Regions from separate parts of the Homo sapiens genome. Here region 1 is linked to region 2. The links come from fine-mapping of genetic effects on gene expression. Tissue or cell type: whole blood. Region 2 holds a variant in brackets; the other region holds the start of a gene. All regions are shown on one strand. Distances are from middle to middle.

Evidence for each region. PIP is the estimated chance that this variant, and not a neighbour inherited with it, causes the effect.
Region 1: it holds the start of DRAXIN, and the variant in region 2 is fine-mapped to the expression of DRAXIN in whole blood (TOPMed, PIP above 0.99).

The regions. Positions count from the first base shown.
Region 1 is chr1:11,690,645-11,693,396 of GRCh38, reverse strand. DRAXIN (dorsal inhibitory axon guidance protein) reads right to left here and starts at 1,687. Exons shown (of 7, transcript NM_198545.4): 1 at 1,544-1,687. It also overlaps a transcript of MAD2L2 not described here. RefSeq lists an enhancer at 2,372-2,752.
Region 2 is chr1:11,731,148-11,733,899 of GRCh38, reverse strand. No RefSeq gene overlaps it. Among named protein-coding and RNA genes, the nearest start is that of AGTRAP, 3.6 kb to the left of the region's middle. RefSeq lists an enhancer at 1,719-1,808. The variant A/G (reference allele first, on the strand shown) is at 1,638.

The DNA.
Region 1 (2,752 bases), 41 kb after region 2:
AGGTCCAGGAGCCAGCAAGACAATCCCCTCAGAGGAAAGGAAGTGGCCTGTGAGCTGGTGCCGCTATTAAAGGCATCAAGCCAAGACTGAGGTTCAGAATTGGGGGTGAGTCACCGGACGCCTTCTGATGGGTGATCAGTTGTTGGCAACACCAGCTCAGCCACACTGATCTCATTTTGAAAAAAAGTGACCCATTGGCCCTGATTGTTTTAGCTGATTTTAGGACAAGCAAAGAGGAGGAGAGAGAGAAAGAGAAGAGTGCTTGCAAGGGTGTGGACGCCTGTATGGGCACGAGGAGGTGAAGGTGACAGGAAGTGTGATGGGGGAAGAGGCTGTGGTGGTGGGGTTACTCTGAAGTGTCTCTAAGCCTTGACTTTGAGATCCATTTCTGTGGAGCCCCCTGTCCCCACCCCATCCCAGGTCTGTAGACTCCCCTCCCCTCCCCTCCCTTCCTCCACAGGGTGTGTGAACCAGCACCAAGCGGCACCCCACAATTTCCACACACATCCCTATAGGTAGGGACTAGCACCATCCCTGTTTTGTGACAGGAACACTGAGGCTCAGAGAGGTGCATTCCTTTGTCCGAGATCACTCCCAGAGCCCCAGTGTACCCGACTCCAGATGCATAGTACTGAACCGGTTCCAGACACCAGTGTGTCACTGGGCTGGGAGGTGGGCAGCGTGGAGGGAGCATATAGGGCAGGGGAGACCACCGGGCGGAGAGGATGGCCCAGGGAGCACCCAGCTGAGGAAAGCAAGAAAGACTTGGCGGGAAACCCCAGCCCTCTCTCATCTCATACCCCGGCCCCGAAGGCGGCTGAGACCCTTGACGAGCGGACGGAGAAAAGCCAAAAGCCGGCGGTGGGGAGCAGGAGGGACAGAGCGGGAGACCACAGGCGAAAGACCAGCGCCGTCGGGGGAGCCAGGCTGAGTACCTTCCTGGGCACAGATGGGACGGCGCGGGGCCACCGGCGGTGCTGGTTCCGGGCGCACTCAGCGACCCCGGCCACACACCCCAGCCTCCTGGGCGGCCTCGAAAGGGGCTGGAGGGCACGCCCGCCAGCTCTGCCCGGGGCTCAGGGAGTCTTCGAAGACTTCTTCCAACGGTGGCGGACTGGGGCCCCCTGCCTGAGAGACCACCCGGAGACTCAGAGACAGAGAGACAAAGGGAGACTGGGTCAGGGAGAGAGAAGGCTAGTGCCGAGGAGAGTAGGTGCGAGCCGGGACCCCAGAGGGCGGCGAGGGCGCGCGCGAGGCCGAGTGTCAGAGCGTGGAAAAGTGGGCGTCCAGCGGTAGGTGGACGGATGGGGAGCCCGGGAGCAGAGCCAGGGTCCGTGGGCAGACGCGGCGAGGAGAGGAGGCGGCGGAAGGACTGGCGGATAGACGGGTCCGAGGGCTGGGAAGGAGGCAGCATCCTCACTTCCAGCCTCGGGACCCCGCGCACCCCGCCCCTGGGCGCGCCAGGTAGCCCACCTTTGTCCGGGCTCGCAGCCAGGTGGGGCGGGAGGGGCGGAGCCAGGGGCGGGCCGAGGCCGTGCCTTACCTGTCCGGCCGGCGGGTAGGGGGAGGAGGGGCTCGGGGCCGAGCGCCCGCGGGAGCCGAGCGCAGCCGAGGGCGAGCCGCGGAACGGGGCCGGCGTGGAGAGGTGCGCGGGCAGCCGGAGGATGTGCCCGGGCTGAGCGGGACTGGAAGGAAGGGGGAGTGGGCGGGCAGGAGGGAAGGGGGCGGGAGCGCGGGGAGGGGACAGAGGAGGGGCGGCGGGTGGCGGGCTCGACTGCCCCCAGCCGAGGGGCAGCCCCGGGGCCGGGCCCGGCGCGCACCCGGCCAGCGCGCCCTCGCCAGCTGCGCTCTGAGTTCTGGGCCAGCTCCCCAGAGGCCTAGGCGCCGCCGCCGCGAGGGCGCGGGGCAGACAAAGGAGGCAGACAAAGGCGGGCGCAGCCCAGCAGCCGTGCGGGCACCGGGCGAGGCAGGCCCACTCCTCCCGGTGCGTAAGAGCCGCCTCGGCGCGGCCCAGGGCGCGTGGGACGGGAGGGGCTCCGGCAGTTGTGGCGCCTCTGGAGCGGCCCCGCGCAGGGCGGGCGACAAAGGGCCGCGGCGGGCGGTCCTCGGTGGACCCCAACAATGGAGCGAGGCTGCGCGCTCAGCTGCGGCCGCGTCTGTCAGGGCAGGGGCCCGGGGCCACAAAAGGATTATTCCGCCTAGACTGTCAAAAGGGACGGAAGAAATGCCCAGGGCGGGGGAGGCGGGACGGGGAACGGCGGGGCCTTTGTAGCCGCAGAAAGTGCGCAGAGTGGGCAGGCGGGGTTCTCCGAGAGGTCGCTCCTGGATGTAGGGGTACAAAGGGTCTTCAAAGTGCTACCAGCTCACCTGGGGCGCTGACGGCGCACCTGTGCCCTCTTTCCCGGTAGGGAAGGGAGAAAGACAACCGCCCCAATACACACACACACAAACACACACACACACACACTCACACGCGGCGCGGCTCTCGCCACGCCCCGTCCAAAGCCGGCCTGAAGCTTCTCAGACCGGCCCAACCCGGACAAAGCCAGCGCTGGGGCCGGCTCATCCATCACCGCGCGGGGCGCCGTGTCCTGACGACCCTGGGAGTCTGAGAATGCTGGGTTATGGGTCCCGTGCCTCCCATAACTCACGACGGGGTCGGTGGGGCCACGGACGCTGCAAAGATCAAAGAGCGATGGGGCCGGACTCCCATATGTGGGAAGCAGCGCTCCCACCTGGCGCCCTGAGCTCG
Region 2 (2,752 bases):
GGTGGCTCAAGCCTGTAATCCTAACACTTTGGGAGGCTGAGGCCGGTGGATCACTTGAGGTCAGGAGTTCGAGATCATTTTGGCCAACATGATGAAACCCCGTCTCTACTAAAAATACAAAAATTAGCCAGGCATGGGGGTGTGCACCTGTGGTCCCAGCTACTTGGGAGGCTGAGGCAGGAGAATTGCTTGAACCTGGGAGGTGGAGGTTGGAGTGAGCCGAGATCCTGCCACTGCACTCTAGCCTGGGCAACAGAGTGAGATTCCATGTCAAAAAAAAAACAAAAAAACCGCAAAACAACTCCTAGGATTAGAGCTGACATTTACTAAACTGACATTTACAGGACCCTGTAGGGGCGGAAGGGTGTGATACCTTTCCTCACCCATCATAAAGGTCACAGCTGACACTCCTGTAAAAAAAGACTGCTTAACAAGAGAAAAGCATACCAAGTTTAGTTAAGCAAAGCTTCATGTGACATGGGAGGCTTCAGAGATGAAGACTCAAAGGCCCTGGGAAATCTGTCCATTTTTGTGCTTAGTTTCAAGGAAGAATGAACAGCCCTGTAGCAATGCAATTGGATAAAAAGAAAATGAACAAGTCTTGTCCAGATTCTTCTTGGGCTCTCCATGCAGCATTCCTTCCTCCTGGGTATGAGGTAGAACCCCTCTGTAATGAGGTCTTTAAAGAGAGAAGGGAGAGAGCCACCTTTCTAGGTTTTATGGCTACTTTGGAGACACGGGTTCTAGTTTCTGTGACCCACCTTGGAGAAGGAGGATTTTTTTTTTTTTTTTTCTTGAGACAAGGTCTTGCTCTGTTACCCAGGCTGGAGTGCAATGGTGTGATCATGGCTCACTGCAGCCTCAACCTCCTGGGCTCAGGTGATCCTCCCACTTCAGCCTCCTGAATAGCTGGGATTAGAAGCACCTACCACCATGACTGGCTAATTTTTGTATTTTTTTTTATAGAGACAGGGCTTGCCATGTTGCCCAGGCCGGTCTCAAACTCCTGGGCTCAAGCGATCCACCTGCCTCGGCCTCCCAAAGTGCTGGGATTACAGACTTGAGTCACCTCATCCCCTGCCAAAGGAGGAATTCTTGTTCTGTGACTGCCTCACGGGAGAAGGAGGGGCTGGAGACAGGAGGTCAGGAGGGCGTCACAGAGACCTTGCTTTTGAGGCCTCCAGTCTTCTGTAGTTCATAGTACTTAGCATGCCAAAGCACCAGATATTGGGGTGACATTTTCTGAGCCCCAACAGTAGTTGTCGTGTGGCAGACAGTGTGAAAGGGCTTCATAGTGGGCCAGGCACGGTGGCTCACATCTATAATCCCAGCACTTTGGGAGGCCAAGGCGGGTGGAACACCCGAGGTCAGGAGTTCGAGAACGGCCTGGCCAACATGGTGAAACCCTGTCTCTATTAAAAATACAAAAATTAGCCGGGCATGATGGCACATGCCTATAATCCCAGCTACTCGGGAGGCTGAGGCATGAGAATCGCTTGAACCCAGGAGGTAGAGATTGCAGTGAGCCGAGATCCTGCCATTGCACTCTAGCCTGAGAGACTGAGAGACGGAGCGAGACCCTGTCTCAAAAAAAAAAAAAAAAAAAAAGAAAGTTCTTCATAGTAAATGCTCACAAC[A/G]GAACTATGGCACGCGCTGTTCTTATTCCTGTTTACACTTAGGCAACTGAAATCAACAGAAGTGAAGCCGCTTGCTGCAGGCACAGCACTAATTGCTGCTGGAACTGCGGTGGGACCCAGGAAGCCTGGCTCCAGGACCCTGACGTGTAACCACACAGCAGAAAAATCCGGCCAGGGCTGAAATGAGAAGGATAGAGTGAAGCAAGTAGGAGAAGACAAGGATCGGAAGGCAGCACAAGGCTGGGCCTGTGGAACGTCCCTGTGGCTCAGACACTGACACTGTATTCATCTCCACCAGCTGGGGCCAGAGGCGGAGGGAGGAGAGCACGAGAACACCCAGCTGGCTGGGCGGGCTTGGCAGGCTGGTGGGGTTGGGGGGATGCGGGGAGGTGGGAAGCACGGAGAAACAAAAGAAAGTGAAACTGTCGGTATCCTCAAAGGAACCGGAGTTCCTGCCACGACCTATTCTTGGCTATGGAAGGACATAATAGACCCCCACGTGGCATTCCACAAGGCTTGGGGTCATGTATTGAGTGAGTACAGACACTCCCCAACTTACAATGGTCTGACATGATTTGTCTACTTTCCAACAGTGCGAAAGCGATCTGCGTTCAGTAGAAACCATATTTCCAGTCCCCAGTATAACCGTTCTGTTTTTCACTTGCAGTATAGTGTTCAATAAATTCCATAGGGTTTTCAGCACTTTATTATGAAATAGGCTTGTTTTTCATGATTTTGCACAACTGTAGGCTAATGTAAGTGTTCTGAGCATGTTTAAAGTAGGCTAGACTAAGCTATGATGTTCAGTAGGTTAGGTGTATTAAATGCATTTTATTTTCTTTTTTTGAGACAGGGCCCTCTAGGTGCTCTGTCACCCAGACTGGAGTACAGTGGTGCAACCTTGGCTCACTGCAGCCTCCAACTCCTGGGCTCAAGTGATCCTCCCATCTCAGCCTCCCAAGTAGCTGGTATTACAGGCTCACACCACCATGCCCAGCTAATTTTGCTTTTTTTTTTTTTCTTGAGATGAACTCTCACACTGTCGCCCGGGCTAGTGTGCAGTGGGGCGATCTTGGCTCGCTGCAGCCTGCACCTGCCGGGTTCAAGCAATTCTC